2 linked regions of the Homo sapiens genome follow. The protein of the gene in region 2 purifies or fractionates together with the protein of the main gene of each other region. This does not show direct contact. Each region holds a gene or a part of one and is shown on either strand. Other genes may lie near its edges.

What was found.
Region 1: the proteins of FOXQ1 (region 2) and TLE3 purify together in Homo sapiens (affinity purification with mass spectrometry; 2 studies listed by BioGRID and IntAct, with this or other methods). This does not show direct contact.

What each region holds. Positions count from the first base shown.
Region 1 is NC_000015.10:70,059,748-70,066,956, reverse strand, and holds part of TLE3 (transducin-like enhancer protein 3), read left to right. Parts: intron 1-738; coding exon 739-943; intron 944-2,486; coding exon 2,487-2,503; intron 2,504-6,307; coding exon 6,308-6,427; intron 6,428-7,209. UniProt on the Homo sapiens protein: Transcriptional corepressor that binds to a number of transcription factors. Inhibits the transcriptional activation mediated by CTNNB1 and TCF family members in Wnt signaling.
Region 2 is NC_000006.12:1,307,119-1,315,161, forward strand, and holds FOXQ1 (forkhead box protein Q1), read left to right. Parts: upstream 1-4,979; 5' UTR 4,980-5,586; coding exon 5,587-6,798; 3' UTR 6,799-7,640; downstream 7,641-8,043. UniProt on the Homo sapiens protein: Plays a role in hair follicle differentiation.

The sequences.
Region 1 (7,209 bases), on a different chromosome or scaffold from region 2:
GCTTTCCCCCTTTACAGATAAGGAAATTTGAGGCTCCAGGACTTGAAGTAACCTGCCCCAGGCCACACAGCTAGGAAGTGCCAGAGCTGGGATTTCAATCCTGTTCTGTCTAGTTCCAAAGCCTCCACTCTTCCAGTTACCCCGTTTTCCACCACTGATGTCCGGTGACGTTAGCTCTCATTCCACTGGCCCCCAGCTCATCTGGCTCTGGGGCCTTTGCTGTGATGACCTGCCCTGCCCCTGCTCTGTAAGGCAGGCTTGGAGTTCCTAAGAAATAAGGAGCCTTCCCCAGGGTCCAGCCTCAGGGTGGAAGATGCTGGCAGCTAATGCTGAAGGCATGTATGCATGAGCAAACACTGCCAGGGCTGTGAGCTTAAAAATGGATCCCTCTCTACTCAGAGGGAACCCCATGACTCTGCGGTTTTTTAAATGCATGCATTCTTTATCTCAGGCTTGGAAACAAACATTGAGAAATTATTTGTGAAACGGGGGTGCAGGGAGTTGGGGGGTGCTTGAAGACATAAATCTTTACATTACAGTCTATTAACAGACTTCCTTCAGCGAGACATTCATGTGAACTGAGCTGGGGGCAAAGGTTTTGGGGGTGCTTCCCCCTGCCACCCACCCAGTGAAGGAGCAAGAGGAATGGGAAGAGCCACTCCCTCCCTCCCTCCTGAGGTGGCCACGCCTCCCCTGCCCTCCCCAACTCAGCTGTACTCACCACCGACTTCATTGCAGCAGCAGCAGCTCCAGGCGCAGCACCTCTCCCATGCCACACACGGCCCCCCGGTCCAGTTGCCACCCCACCCGTCAGGTCTCCAGCCTCCAGGAATCCCCCCAGTGACAGGGAGCAGCTCCGGGCTGCTGGCACTGGGCGCCCTGGGCAGCCAGGCCCATCTGACGGTGAAGGATGAGAAGAACCACCATGAACTCGATCACAGAGGTGCGGCTGGGCTGGGGCAGAGGGTGGGGCGGGGCAGGGGTGGGCATGGGCGCTCATAGGCCTCACAGTGAGTGGACCCAGCAAGTGCTGTCGTCCTAAGACCAGGAGTTACCAAGGATTTGGAGTCATCTGTTGATACCTGGTGCAGGGAAGCCAATGCCATCCGCATCCCATGCACCTTTTCCTACTCCTTGGTGTGGACCTGGTATTCTCTGTCCTGAAGACCCTGTCTGTTCATCTGGAGCTCGCTCCCATCTTCCTACAACACCCTTGCCTGTCCTTCAGGGGCCAGCCCCAGTCCAACCCTTCAGGATGCCTTCCTGGTCAGACTAGGGGCTTTTTCAAGTTCCTGTAAGAGTTTAAGAGTTGGGATGCCAAAGTTGAGTCCTTGTTACTGTCGTCTTACATCCTACCCCTGGAAAATGTCTTGTGCTCACCACGATCATTAGTTCCCTAGGACAGGTGCCAAGTTCTTGGGTGTTTTCCTTACATCTATGTCTCACCAATGCAGAAACCTGGGAAAGGTGCACAGTCAGTGCTCAGGTAAAGGTTTGTTAGCTGACTGCCTGTAAGTGGGGGTAGTGCACACCCCAGCAAGAGATCACATAGACTTGGAGTCAGAACTTGTTCTCTGACCCTCTCTGCAGCCCCTACCATGAGGACCCATGAAGCTGCACCGAGCTTGGCCTCAGGAGTGGTTCATTGGATCAGAAAAGAGAAAAGCCTGGCTCCCTGGGAGGCCCTTTTCAAAAATTGGTGCCAAATGCACTCTGCCCTTAGATACGGTATTTACTGGGGCACGTAGCCAACACCTTCTGAGCACTAGGGACCTGGAATGTCACCATCCTGCCTTGGCCCAGGCCACAGGGTGGTAGCCGGTCCAGGGAACTGGAGGCTACATTTTTTTGTCTTACAGTAGGATGGTCCTTTTGGCAGAGGAAGAGGGGCCTCTCCATAGCAGACAGGAGAACTGGGGAGCTAGTGCTTAGCTGGGCACAGTTTCAGAGGCTTCAGCTTTTAGGGGCATCCTGACAAAGAATCACAGAATGGTGTTAATTTCAAAAACAAAATTAAACCACTGTTAAATTCCTTTTTTTTTTTTTTTTTTTAACAATAAAGTTCTTAACTCCCAGGTCCTACTGGTATTTTATATGGCATGATCCTTCTCAAGCTTGTGATCTTAAGACCCCTAGCCTGCTAAAGAGTAAACTTGGTGCCCTCTGGCATGACAGGGAGAACTGGGTCAAAGGCCTACCCTCCCCACCCTGGGGACTGGGCCTCCCTTGCCCACCCTGGGGACTAGAGGGGTGGGGGCAGCATTGGAATTTGGGTGGCAAATTTCCAAACCGAGAAACGCCACCTAATGGCCCTGCCTTGGCTGATCCACGGAGACAGCAATCCAGGCCTTCTGCTCATTTTAAAACCAGTGCACTAGCAAATCACAAAAGCCAGCTGGACTTAGACTGACCTTTTTCCTTTCTTTTTTGTCTTTTTGTTTTGGGGTGCCTGACCTTCCTCCTGTCCTGGCCTTCTTTCCCCAAAGAGAGAGAATCCAGTGCGGTAAGTGTTGGCACTCTGGAACCCGGAGGGGTGTTTGGGTGCTGGGAGGAGGTGGGACTCGGGGCTCCCAGAATCGCGGGCCTGAGACCAGTCAGTCGGTATCCAAAGCTGGCTTCTGGGTTCCCGCTTCTGCTCTGTGGGTTGTAACTAGGGATTTTGTTGTTTGTTTACTCTTGCTGAGCTGGGAGCTTCAGTGCTGATGTCTTAGTCCAGAGCCAGTGGCAGGGTGAGGGGTAGCTACTGTCATAAAATGGGAGCTGCTGTCGTCACCTGTTGAGAGTGACCTTCAGTTGTGGAAGCCCTTCCTCTCTCCAGGCTTTAGGTCTGCCATTTGTCAAATGAAGAGCTTGGGCTAAATGAGCTCTAACTCCGTTTCATATGAGAGGTGATACTCTGAGAGGTCAGCTGACCAGCCCTGGATCTTCCATTGCGAGGGGCTTTGTGGAGTCTCTGGGCTAAACCCAGGGCTAAGGACCCAGGTGTCCCATGTTCAGGGCCAAGGTTTTTACCACCCCCCTGCTAGGATGCCTCCTGTATGATCTTGCATCCTCCTCATTCCCTTCAAACGCCTGCAGTTTCTCCCTGCTCTGGGCTTTCACTCGATTTAAGAAAGTGCTAGCAGGCGAGCATTAAGGCCAGGCCGCCTGCGTGTCTGCCAGCTCTGAGATTTGTTGTAAATCTTTCTGATCACACTGAGGCTCCGAGGTTCTGTTTCAAGTGAATAAGCCTTCTGAATAAGCGCAGTGGAGTCTGGATAAAAAAAATCCTCCAGCGATTAGCAAAGCTATTTTATTCCTCATCGCTGTCCTTGTATCTGGGGCCATCTAATCTGTTAGGATGGCTTTGGTTATTACCTCGTGTTAAGTAGGACTTGGAAGGTCAGGCAGTTAACTAACCATCTAGACAGCAGCTTCCTTGCGCAGCTCTCTCCAATCCAGCCCTCCTTCCCTTCCTGGCCCTCCCCCTACCCAGGCTGACTTTTTAAACCTCCCATTAGCAGTGAGGCTGGCGTCCGTGGCCTCTTGACCCGCCTACATGCTCAGAAATCCAGGACCACATTTGGGCTGAGGAATGGCTAGGTACCTAAGAGAGGAGTCATTGAAGCTGAAAATCCATGTTCACTGCCTCGGTACTGATCCTCTAACAGTGGCATTTTTTCGGAGAGGCAGTTTGCCTAGATAGGCGGAGGCCTGGATTGGACATTTTAAGGCTGAGGTCTGGTCCCAGCTTTATGAGGCCCTGTGTAGTTCTCTTGGCCTCTCTGAGCCTCAGTTTCCTTATCCATACCATGGGAATAATTCCTGCTTGACCAACCTCTCAGCTTTGTTTCGGAAGACCCTTTATAACCTGACTGAGGATCCAGATTACCTGGCTAGCAGGGACCCACTTCAGTGGAATTGGAGGGGGAGTGGGAAGCCCAGCACTCTCTAAAGAGCATGAGTCTTTACCTCATCCTCATCCCTATTGGCTTCTGGCTTTGTGCCCCATCTGTGAAAGTTTTCTGCTAAAAGACCCCCCCTGGGAACCCCCAAGAGCTGGGCTGTTTACCATGCTCGCTGAGGTCCATGCATGGCACACATGGGCCTCAGGAAACTCCAGTGGGAATGAATCAAGATGCTGGGCAGAGGCAGCAGTGGGCAGGGCCGAGGCTGTGCGCATGGCATGTGGCGTGGTGACGGTGTCAGCGGCGGTGTAGACTGAAATAATCAGGCTTTGGAAACCAGGTTGTCAACAGATGAGGCCTACGGCAGGAAGGACAGGGCTGTGTCAGAGTGGGAGGGGGGATGGGGGGACGGGCTGGAAGCTGTCCCAGAGGGGTTAGTCTGGAGTCCAATTAGTGGTAGCTTCATTCATATTTCCTTGCCTAGCCGAAGCAATAAAAAATACTTAGTTTTTTGGCCGCCTGCCAGCCAGAGGCGGGCTGGATCGATGCCGCTAAATGCCTGACATGACTCTCCGGTAGCGGCGAGGGTTTTCAGCCTGACTGCATGAGAAGAAAGAGCTCGCTGTTCTCCCGAGCCGAGCACCGGGTCGCGAGGAGAAACACGAGCAGCCGCACGCCCCCTCCCCTGCCCGCCCGCCTGCAAGGGGCAGCCAGTGCGAGGGGCTGGAAGCATTTCTGCTTAGCACAGGGTGGCCACCACCGTCAGAGGAAATGAAATGAAATGACGGTGATTTTTCTGCCGGCGATTGCAGCAGCTAATTGAATTGTGGCTGTGCGCGCATCGCCACCGCTCCTGCACGGCTGTGGGGAAGGTTGAGCTGCAGTTCCATTATAACCTCCATTTTTTCTTCAAGGCTTGATAACTCTGCCATTTTAATTTGCTTCGGGCAGAAACTTGGCCGGGTAGGGCTGCCCAGAACCCGGCTTAGGAAAGGAAATTAAGTTCTGAGGCTGGTTGCCGCACTATTCCCACCGAATACTGCCCAGCCCCGTTCCCTCCAAGTGGCCCTTGCCCCTGAGCCACGCTTGGCCTCTGGGAAAGTGGAGAAGAGAAGGGAAGCCTCATTCCACTTGCCTTCTGATGCTCTTCTCTTCTGAACAGATGTCCCTCTGGGTCTCCATATGACCTCCTGTGTTGCATGGGGACTGGGACCTGGGATGGCCTGTCCTTTTCTTCCAGCTCCATCATAGCTGGACCATGAGCTCCTGGAGGGCAGGGATTGTATCTCATTCATTCTGCCACTCCTGGCCTGCAGCACCAGGGCTGACCCAGGGCAGCTGCTCGGAAATTGGTGGGTGGGTGAAGGTAAAGTTTGGACTCTTAGAAAGGAGTAAACCTCACCAATATCATAGAGGGGCATTGGTCCTGATATTAGTCTCTGGGCACAGAGGTTTGCTGGCAGGTGCCCTTGCCAGTTGCACTTCCCTCCCTGCTCCCCAGCTCGGTGGTAACAGCCACATGGTGATTTCTGACCACTATCAACCCCTAGGACTACTCCGTCATCTTCCCTCTTCCCAGGCCTCCCATCCCAAAGGCTTCTCATCCTCATTTGCTTTATAGTTGAGGGAGAACTCACGAAATTTTGGGGTTCCCTTTGTGCCACCTTCTGCTAGGGGAGCTTGGGCACATTCACCAACCTCTTGGGGTCTCCACTTGGTGATGGCTACAGAGGCAGTGACTGTCCCTGCCCTTGCTCCTTTCCCTGTCTGTCAGAGGGAAAGGCTTCATGACGTGGCATTTTTGTTTTTTTTACAACCCTGGTGTTTCTCCAGAGTTGCTGACAGCCTCACCGTGGAGGCGGGGGTGTTCACACAGAACGCTTGGCTGCTCATCTCCACTGGGAAGTTGGTGGCTGCCTGACGCCCTCCTTCCCTATCAATCTCCCCATTCCTGTCGGGCTCAGCAAATGAAGTATTGCTCATGGCCCCTGCCTGTCAGCTCAGATCCATCTTACAAGACTCAGTGCAAATTCCACTTATCCCTCCTTTGAGCAAATGAGTGTGGCAAGCGCGAGATGGGTGGTGAATGAGACCCAGGTGACCCTCGCCCTCACAGAGCGTAGTCCCACAGGCCAGAAGGCAGACGGCTTACTGCAGGGTTAATTATTTAATAGCAGTGCAGAGCTGCAAAAGAGAATTGGGGATGCGCCCAGGGCATCTCCCCGGGGACTCAGTCTCAGGGGAGTGGGGAAGGCTTCCCTGGCAAGGCTCTGATGGAGCCACGATCTGCAGGGCAGAGAGGAGTTCAGCTTCTCTTCCCTCCCCTGACCTCCGTGTCACCTGCACTTAGCTGTGTGCGGATGTGTGAATTGTTACACGCAGCAGAAAGTTTTAACCCCGAACCCTCTTTTTCCTTCCAGAATAACTCTGTGTCACCCTCGGAAAGCCTCCGGGCCAGTGAGAAGCACCGGGGCTCTGCGGACTACAGCATGGAAGCCAAGAAGCGGAAGGCGGAGGAGAAGGACAGCTTGAGCCGATACGTACGTCCAAGGCGCCATGGCACCACTGGGGTTTCTGTTGGGTAGGGCAGGGGGTGTCTGCAGGGCCCAAGCTGTGGCCAGGGTCTTCTTGTGGTTGGCAGTGAGTCAGAGAAGCACAGGTTGGCGATAGGGGACCCTATTGAGGAGAGCAGGGTGGGAACAGGGCTAGGGTGAAGTTCACACACGCTATGAGCATGCGAGCCACTGTGGGGCGGAGGTGGATGGGGAGGTCGTCCTAGCCTCCATGGGGTCTCTTCCCACAGACAGGCCAACAACCCCATGCTGCTGTCATGGTGCTGCCGGAATCCCACTTGGCTCTAAGGGGCTGCTCCCAGTGACCCCCAAAATGTGGACCCTATAGTCCTCTCAGTTGGCCTGAGGCATGCACTCACTTGGCCACCCAGTCATGGCTTTTACTAGCCTTTTAATGGGATGCCCCCGGCACGTGAGACCCTAGTGGAAGCATGGCTGTTGTGTTTCCCCTGTGTCAGGCTGTGCAGGGCTGAGAGCTGGGACAGAGGGAAGGGGAGGATATGGTGCAGGGCCTCAGCGGTCTTGCACCCAGCCCTCTTCAGCCACATGGCTGCTGTGTGGCTTTGGACACATTGAGCACCCAAAGGACACTCAGCTGTGTTTCTGTGAGAGGAGGCAAGTTACTATCCCACACAGATGGGTGGGAATGACCAGGTGAGAGCAGCACACTGACTGTGAAGGATGGTGGATGTAAAACCAGCTGGGAAGAAGGTTCTGGCTTCAGAGAGAAGCAGAAGGGCAGGCTGTGG
Region 2 (8,043 bases):
ATTGGCCATAGACTAGGATTAGATGACCCCAAGAAATATCTCATTCCTCCAGGAACTATTTTTCACTTTTCCAGTTTTTACCCGGAAAGTTTACTTGGTTGATTAATTCTGAAGAATTTGCCTATCTGGGCTTACAAAGATAGTATACCCCTCCAAAATAAGTTTCCAAGTATGAAATGGAAGGAGAGACATAAATAATACTTAATAAGGGCCTAGAACATAGTAGTTCAGTTTTTAAAATCCCTATAACTGTTATTCTTCTAGATTTAAAAAAGGTGAGGTGTGGTAACTTTCCTGGTAGAGCAGAGATACGAACCCAAGGTTATCTGTCTCCAAAGCCCACACCTACCTAGAGTGGTAATGCCTTCTCTGGAATTAAATGGGAGAGTTAACCCCGCCATATCCACTCCAAATGCATAAACCTAGACTGTGGATCCAGGTTTGAGGGACTACTGGCCAAGACAAGGGACATAGACCCTTCCCCAGCTCCACAGGAAGCCCTGCAAAGACCTTGTTTTTTTTGTACAACTTAATATTCATGTATCCAAACTGGATCTCATTTGGCACTTGCCCCTCTTTTGCCCAGATTTGTATGACAGTATGATGATGGAGCCCTCTCCAAGGATGTGCGTCAGTTCTCTTCATAGAAAGACAGTCTCCTTCTTTGATACATATCAGGAAAGGTCTGATTACTAATTTATTGTGGATGGTTACAGCCTCAAAGTTAAAAAGAGAGAACTGGATCACTCATTGCAAACAGAAGTTAAATCTCCTTGTTCTGCTTGTAAAACTCAAAATTTAAAGAACTTCAGGTAATAGAAAAACTGGACTAAAACTAGACAATGAGGTTCCTAAGATCTAGCCAGTTCTGAAGAATGGACTCCATGATCCCACTATCTAAGCTGTCACCTTGTAACAAATCAGCCCCGGGCCTTTCCTTCCTACATTGGTATTTTCACACATGGTGCTAGAGTGTGCAGGATTTCGTCTCTGAGTGACAGAATCAGGCAGCATTCTCAATGACCCCTAACCTTCGTCGTACTGTAGATGATCTAGCTTTGTATCTGCACATCTTTGCTCCTCCTTTTATCCTTCTTTTTCTCTTTTCCACCATTATCAGGCCTGCCTCCCTGCCTCTCTCCACTCCCCAGGACCCACCTCCCAATAACTACTTAATTCAATGGGTACCCAGTGGCTTTCTTGCTGCTTATAATTCCTGAGGTCTCAAAAGAAAACTTCAGGCACAGCCCTTGGTTTTGCACCTGGTCAGTAATGCCCAGCCAAATTCTAAGATTCTTGGATTAAACCATGCCCATTGCTCAAGAAACCGAAAGAAGACTGTTCAAACAAACATGGTAAATGTACAAACAAATGAGCCTGACCCTATTAAAACATTTTTGGAAAGAAGCAAAAATACAGACACGTAAAAATGCCTAAGTTTTCTCCGTCTACTTCCACACTCACCTTCAATCCTTGCAGGATTTTTCCAGTGTTCAGCATCTACCAAAAGAATCAACCAGACCATGAAATGGGCTAGAACAGAGTTGGACAAAGCACTCCTTTTCTTCCCATGTATTTTCACTATGAGGAAAGGTAAAGAGGCAGCTGGGCTTTATCGCTGTAGAGGCCCTTCACTGCCACCTGACCTCGAGCCCCAAGTCAGGGCCCTCTCCATGCCCCTAGGGAGACTCTGCAAGGATTCAGAGCCATGCATTTTGCCCTGGGACTCTCAACATTAGCCTGGTCTCTAAGCCTGAGGCTCTTCAGTTCTTCACAGCATTGTACTGTAGATTCATCCAGAGTCCCAGGTCCCCATGGGAAGGTAATTTTAAGTTTACCCTCTCTTCAGATCCAGAGGTTAACACGACAAGAAATTCAAAGCTGTTTCCAGGTTGCTGGGTGGATGTGATCAAGATTGTTCTGTAGTCCCTTTGGGCTGGGAGCCTGCGTGATCTTCTAATGCATAGGGCAAGTCATCAATATTTCCACAGGGAGTCACCTTAGGTATTTTAGGAATTAAATTATTTTCTTCCCAAGATTAGTGTTTAGGAACTGGGTCAGTGAAGCACTATCAAATTATGGAAAGCGTTAAATTTGCAGATAGTTTCCACAGTTAATTAAGTTACTTTGTGCCCAGAGATACATGCACTATCTTCCTAAAATCACCACTTCAGGGAGGTCATACGATCATGGAAATATGAACTTATCTTTTGCCATAGTTTATTCACTTATCTCCATGGAAATTAAAGGGCAAGGGGGAAAATAAGCTAATAGGTGTTTCTTACCTACAAGTGTTTGGTCAAGCTCCACCTGCAGGCATTTTTTATTAACCCATCAATGTACTCCCCAAGGAATGGGAATTAAGGGGCAGAAATATCCAAGCACTTCTGGGAAACTTTAAAAAAATGCATGTGACGTCTGGCAGCGTCTGGTCTCCCCAACTGTATTCAGCCTTGAGGGTGTTGTGGATAGACACGCCCTGCTCCATACATTCTCGGTTTCTCTGATAGCTGCAAAAGGTGAATGATTTCCCCGCTGTAAAACAACAGCTAAAATTGATACCGACATCAACCACAAATGGAAAAAGCAGTGTTATTTCTGGTTTTAACAGAAGACAATCATGTTATCCTCAGCAAATGGCACATTCATGTGTCAAGGATAGGGGAATACAGTCATGAAGAAAAAAAGAAAAAAACCCTGCTCTAGTGGAGCTTCCATTCTAGCTGAGGTAGGGTTTTTTTTTGTTTGTTTGCTTGTTTTTGTTTTGTTTTAATCCTATCCAGGTGGTCCACGGCCTGCCATGCCATCTTCCTTCTCAAAGTCCACTTAGGTGGCTGCAAGCAACCTCTCACCTGCCCATTCCCTAAGTCACTCTAAAAATAGCAAAGGGTTTCCAGCTGAGAATTCACCCACCTCCAACTCACTCTCTTGCCCCCCAACCTTTTCAGGCTCCAAACTTGCAGACAGCAGCCCACAGGATAGACATAAAAGGTGGGGCAGGTCCTTGCCCCCCTTGCCCCAAATGAAATCAGGGTAAGGAGAGGATCCCCTGCAGCTGGGGAGGGGAGGAGGTTGGGTAAGAAAGGGGGAAAGTGGGACATGGAGGTGGGGTGAGCCACCTTCCCTGGCGGCGACCAGCATTCCTTGGTGGCAGGACACCTTGGCCCTGGAGTCTCGAAGAGGCCTCCCTTGGACTCTGTAGCGACCACGGGTCCCACCTCAAGCCTCCTTGGCTTTACCTTCCCCATCAAATAGTCATGTGCCCTCCTGCCCTGCCCAACCCCAGAGTTCAAGAGAGAAAAACATTCATTACGAACGCCTTTTATCCCTGGCCAAATCCAAGCCTCTTTACCTCGCTATATATATATAGATATACATATTTGTCTCATCCCACTTCCCTCTCCAGGTCTAGTGAACCATCAACTCCAAGGCTAGAGCTGAGCAGACCCCTCCAGAAAGGCTCATCTCCCAAAAAGCAGCCATTCCCCACCTGGCTCCCGAGGCGCATACTTAATAAAGTCAGTCTAATCTCCGAACGCGATCCTTCCCCAAATACAAAAATAACAGAGCTGTGGCTGGGGCTGTCATGTTGCCCGCCCCATTGTGAATGGCTTCAAAACTCCCTGAATAAAGATAAGAGAGGATTGTGTACGTTTTCAACACAAATGGTGGAAAGTAATAAAATAAACATCAAAGGTGAGCTCCCACCTACTAGCGGCTCCGTCGCTTTTTGTGCAACAAAGGCAGGAAAAAGGAGGAAACTCGGCGTGGCAGGGCAGCGGGCTGGAAGTGCACCTTCCCGGGGCCGAGGCGCCCGCTCCCTGGACTAATGACGCCGCGTGGGGATCACGCCCCGGGCGCCCTGGGGTGAGGAACGGTCCCCCCTTTCGAGATTGTCCGACACTGGTGCCAGTGAGGTCACAGCAAAAGTCCCAAAGGAATATTGGAAAGAAATGGCCGTGAACCGGTTTGTTCTTGCCCCCGCCCCCGGGAACACGCCCTCTCCGTCGTTCCTGTTGACTGTCAGATCCCGGGAACCAAGCGGCGGAGCTCGGCGGCATCTGAGGCTTCCGCAGGGACACAAGTGCAGGCACAGCCCAGCACCCTGCGCCAGACACAGCCGCCCCAGGGGAAGAGGAGGACGCTGCTGTCCTCCCGCAGGAGTCACCAGCCAGGTAAAGAAAAAGGTAAAGTAAGACAAAGAAAAGTGAAAGTCGGAGCCCATTTAGTGAGCAAGAGTAAAGGTCATCCAAAAAGGCGCATACAATTTCAAGCCCAGGAGTGCATTCATTAAAACAAGAGGAAAAGACAAGATGGTCCTTGAAAGGAGCTCATAGGAAGGGGCACAGCACAAGGCTCCCGAAAGAGGTCACTGCAAGTGTCCTGCGCAATTTCTGTTCAGCACCTCTGCAGTGACGACAGGGGTTTGCTTTCGTAAGCAGCATCGTTTTCACTACTACAGAAGCACATACGCCGCGTGCAGCTTAGGCCCGAGCAAAGTCCCTGCTCCCCTAGACCCAGTCCCTTCAGGTGTCCCCCTAGGGGAACTGTGGCGTGTCCCCCCAACCAGGCGCACTCGCCTAAACTGCGTCCCCGAACTCCAGGGCGCAGGGAGCCCTCGCGGGCTGCCCGGGGCTGGGGCCCACACCTGAACGGAGGAGCCGGCTGGCGGAGCGGCCCCGCGCGCGCACACACGCACACTCACAGACACGCGCAAACCCACAGCGGCGCGCGCGCTCCCCATTGGCGGGAGGAGGAAGGCGGGGCCGGCCGACCCAAAACAAACAACCTGCGCCAGCGACTTTGCCGCCGCGCTGCAGTGTGGCCTCCGCCTGGTGCGCGCCCGTTGGGGAGCTGGGGAACTGGGGAGCCGCCACCACCTCGGCCACCTCGTTCCCCCACCCCTTGCCGTCCGCGCTCAGGCCCCGCCCCCGCGGAGCCGCCGCAGGGTTATATTGGGCCGGCCCGAAGGTGGAGGCGAGACGCAGCCGCGGCAGGCCAGCGGGGAGATGCTGCCCCGGAGGCTGGGAGCGGGAAGGCGGCTGCGGGCGCAGCGGCCTCGGGGACTCGCCTCCGCGGGTGCTCAAGGCTGAAGGCGCCGGACCTTCCCCCACGGTGGCACGCACATCATCCGGCACCATTTCCGTGCCCCGAAGACGCCCGCGCGGGACCTGGGACCGCCAGTGAAGAACCCCTCCTGGGCTCTTTAACGAGCAGCAGATGCGCATGCTGCTTCTCTCCGGCAGGAAAGCCTTCTAAGCCCGGCGTGCTCGGGCACCCGAGGGTGGAACCGCGGCCCCTGCACACACTCACCCCAAAGTCTCAACGTCGAACCGAAGGCGACACCCACCCAACTCCTCCCTCTCCGCCCCATAGTCCACCCAACACTTGCAGCCCCTCCAGAGAAAAAGCCCAGCGGAAGAGGACTCCGGAAAAGTGACTATCTCGGAAGACCAGGGTAGAGCTCCCGGGAGAAAAAGGCGAAGATCCCCGGCCCCGGATCGCCATCCCCTTCCCTGGCACCAGCTTCTCTAGGCTGCGCGAAGGAAGAGGGTACGACGCCGGGGAGGGACTGGGTGCGCGGGCATGAAGTTGGAGGTGTTCGTCCCTCGCGCGGCCCACGGGGACAAGCAGGGCAGTGACCTGGAGGGCGCGGGCGGCAGCGACGCGCCGTCCCCGCTGTCGGCGGCGGGAGACGACTCCCTGGGCTCAGATGGGGACTGCGCGGCCAACAGCCCGGCCGCGGGCGGCGGCGCCAGAGATACGCAGGGCGACGGCGAACAGAGTGCGGGAGGCGGGCCGGGCGCGGAGGAGGCGATCCCGGCAGCAGCTGCTGCAGCGGTGGTGGCGGAGGGCGCGGAGGCCGGGGCGGCGGGGCCAGGCGCGGGCGGCGCGGGGAGCGGCGAGGGTGCACGCAGCAAGCCATATACGCGGCGGCCCAAGCCCCCCTACTCGTACATCGCGCTCATCGCCATGGCCATCCGCGACTCGGCGGGCGGGCGCTTGACGCTGGCGGAGATCAACGAGTACCTCATGGGCAAGTTCCCCTTTTTCCGCGGCAGCTACACGGGCTGGCGCAACTCCGTGCGCCACAACCTTTCGCTCAACGACTGCTTCGTCAAGGTGCTGCGCGACCCCTCGCGGCCCTGGGGCAAGGACAACTACTGGATGCTCAACCCCAACAGCGAGTACACCTTCGCCGACGGGGTCTTCCGCCGCCGCCGCAAGCGCCTCAGCCACCGCGCGCCGGTCCCCGCGCCCGGGCTGCGGCCCGAGGAGGCCCCGGGCCTCCCCGCCGCCCCGCCGCCCGCGCCCGCCGCCCCGGCCTCGCCCCGCATGCGCTCGCCCGCCCGCCAGGAGGAGCGCGCCAGCCCCGCGGGCAAGTTCTCCAGCTCCTTCGCCATCGACAGCATCCTGCGCAAGCCCTTCCGCAGCCGCCGCCTCAGGGACACGGCCCCCGGGACGACGCTTCAGTGGGGCGCCGCGCCCTGCCCGCCGCTGCCCGCGTTCCCCGCGCTCCTCCCCGCGGCGCCCTGCAGGGCCCTGCTGCCGCTCTGCGCGTACGGCGCGGGCGAGCCGGCGCGGCTGGGCGCGCGCGAGGCCGAGGTGCCACCGACCGCGCCGCCCCTCCTGCTTGCACCTCTCCCGGCGGCGGCCCCCGCCAAGCCACTCCGAGGCCCGGCGGCCGGCGGCGCGCACCTGTACTGCCCCCTGCGGCTGCCCGCAGCCCTGCAGGCGGCCTCAGTCCGCCGCCCTGGCCCGCACCTGCCGTACCCGGTGGAGACGCTCCTAGCCTGAGTAGCGCCGCGGGGCCCGGGAACGCCGAGTGCGCGCCGTCGGGGAGGCGGGAACGCGGGCCCGCGCGCGGACTTTGCACTTTGAATCCAGAGGAAGATGAATTTTTAAAATCTCCATCAAACGTGCCTTAAAGCTAAAGCATTTTGACAGGAGTATTTAAACTTAGTCCAGGATATTTTCCTTTGTGTTTTATAACTTTACAGAGGACCAAAGCAATTCTTGTTTTAGTTTCTTTGCGAAGCCTGCTCCTCCTTCCCTTCATAAGGACTTTTTTTGTCTTTCTTTAACGCCCAGGCTTCGTCTTATTTCTACTGTTTTTGTCGCAACTTCCATTGATTTATGTCCCTTCCCTCCCCCCTAAGTACATCAGGGAACCTTTCCACACTATAAATGATATGACTACTGTTTGGGGTTTCTGGGCCCCCATCCGTGTACGTATGTGGCATTTCCAGGTATGACTGAGTGTGAGAGACATGTCAGAGGCTCTTCAGTGATTTCTTGCTATTGACCGATGCTTCACTGTGCCAAAAGAGAAAAAAAATGTTGGGTTTTGTAATTAAATTATTTATATATTTTTGAAACCCGAATTGAAAATGTTGCAGGCAACGGGCTACAGCTTTATTAGTGGTTCTCTAACTGTGGTCTCCTTGGGCCAAGCAATTTCTTTAAAGGAAAAGTTGATTATGTATGTGGGGTGCCAGGACCACTGCCTTGAAAGCAAGTGTGATTTTTATTTTTAATATTATTTTATTTGTGTCTGTGTACATATTCATGTATAAATTTTATGAAACCCAAGCATAGTGCTTATTTTTTAATAAAACAACTGACTTAACACATTGTGATGATGGGTTGGAAGTGGAGAGATTTTTATGTCTGTCCCCCCTCCCAAAAAAATGGGCTCAGGTTTTGGTCTCAAGAAACTTCCTCTGGAGATAAAAATATTTTCCTGAATAATTCGATAAAGGTATTATAGAATGGGCTTGCAGATTTCCGTATGAGATGCATTGCTAGACAGATTTCCAGATAGGACTTCCATTCATGGGCTTTTTAAAAGTTGAAAACCAATTACTCCTCTAATTAGTCACCTAAGTGCTTCCAGAACAAATGAGAGGGAAGTGTCCCTCTCTCCCCCAAGAATCCTTAGCAGGCAAGTTGAGTTCTTAACAAGCCTAGAGTCAAACAGATATTTTCAGGTAAATTGGTTTCGATTTGGGGCTCAAAAAGTTGGAGCCCCAATTTTTTTGA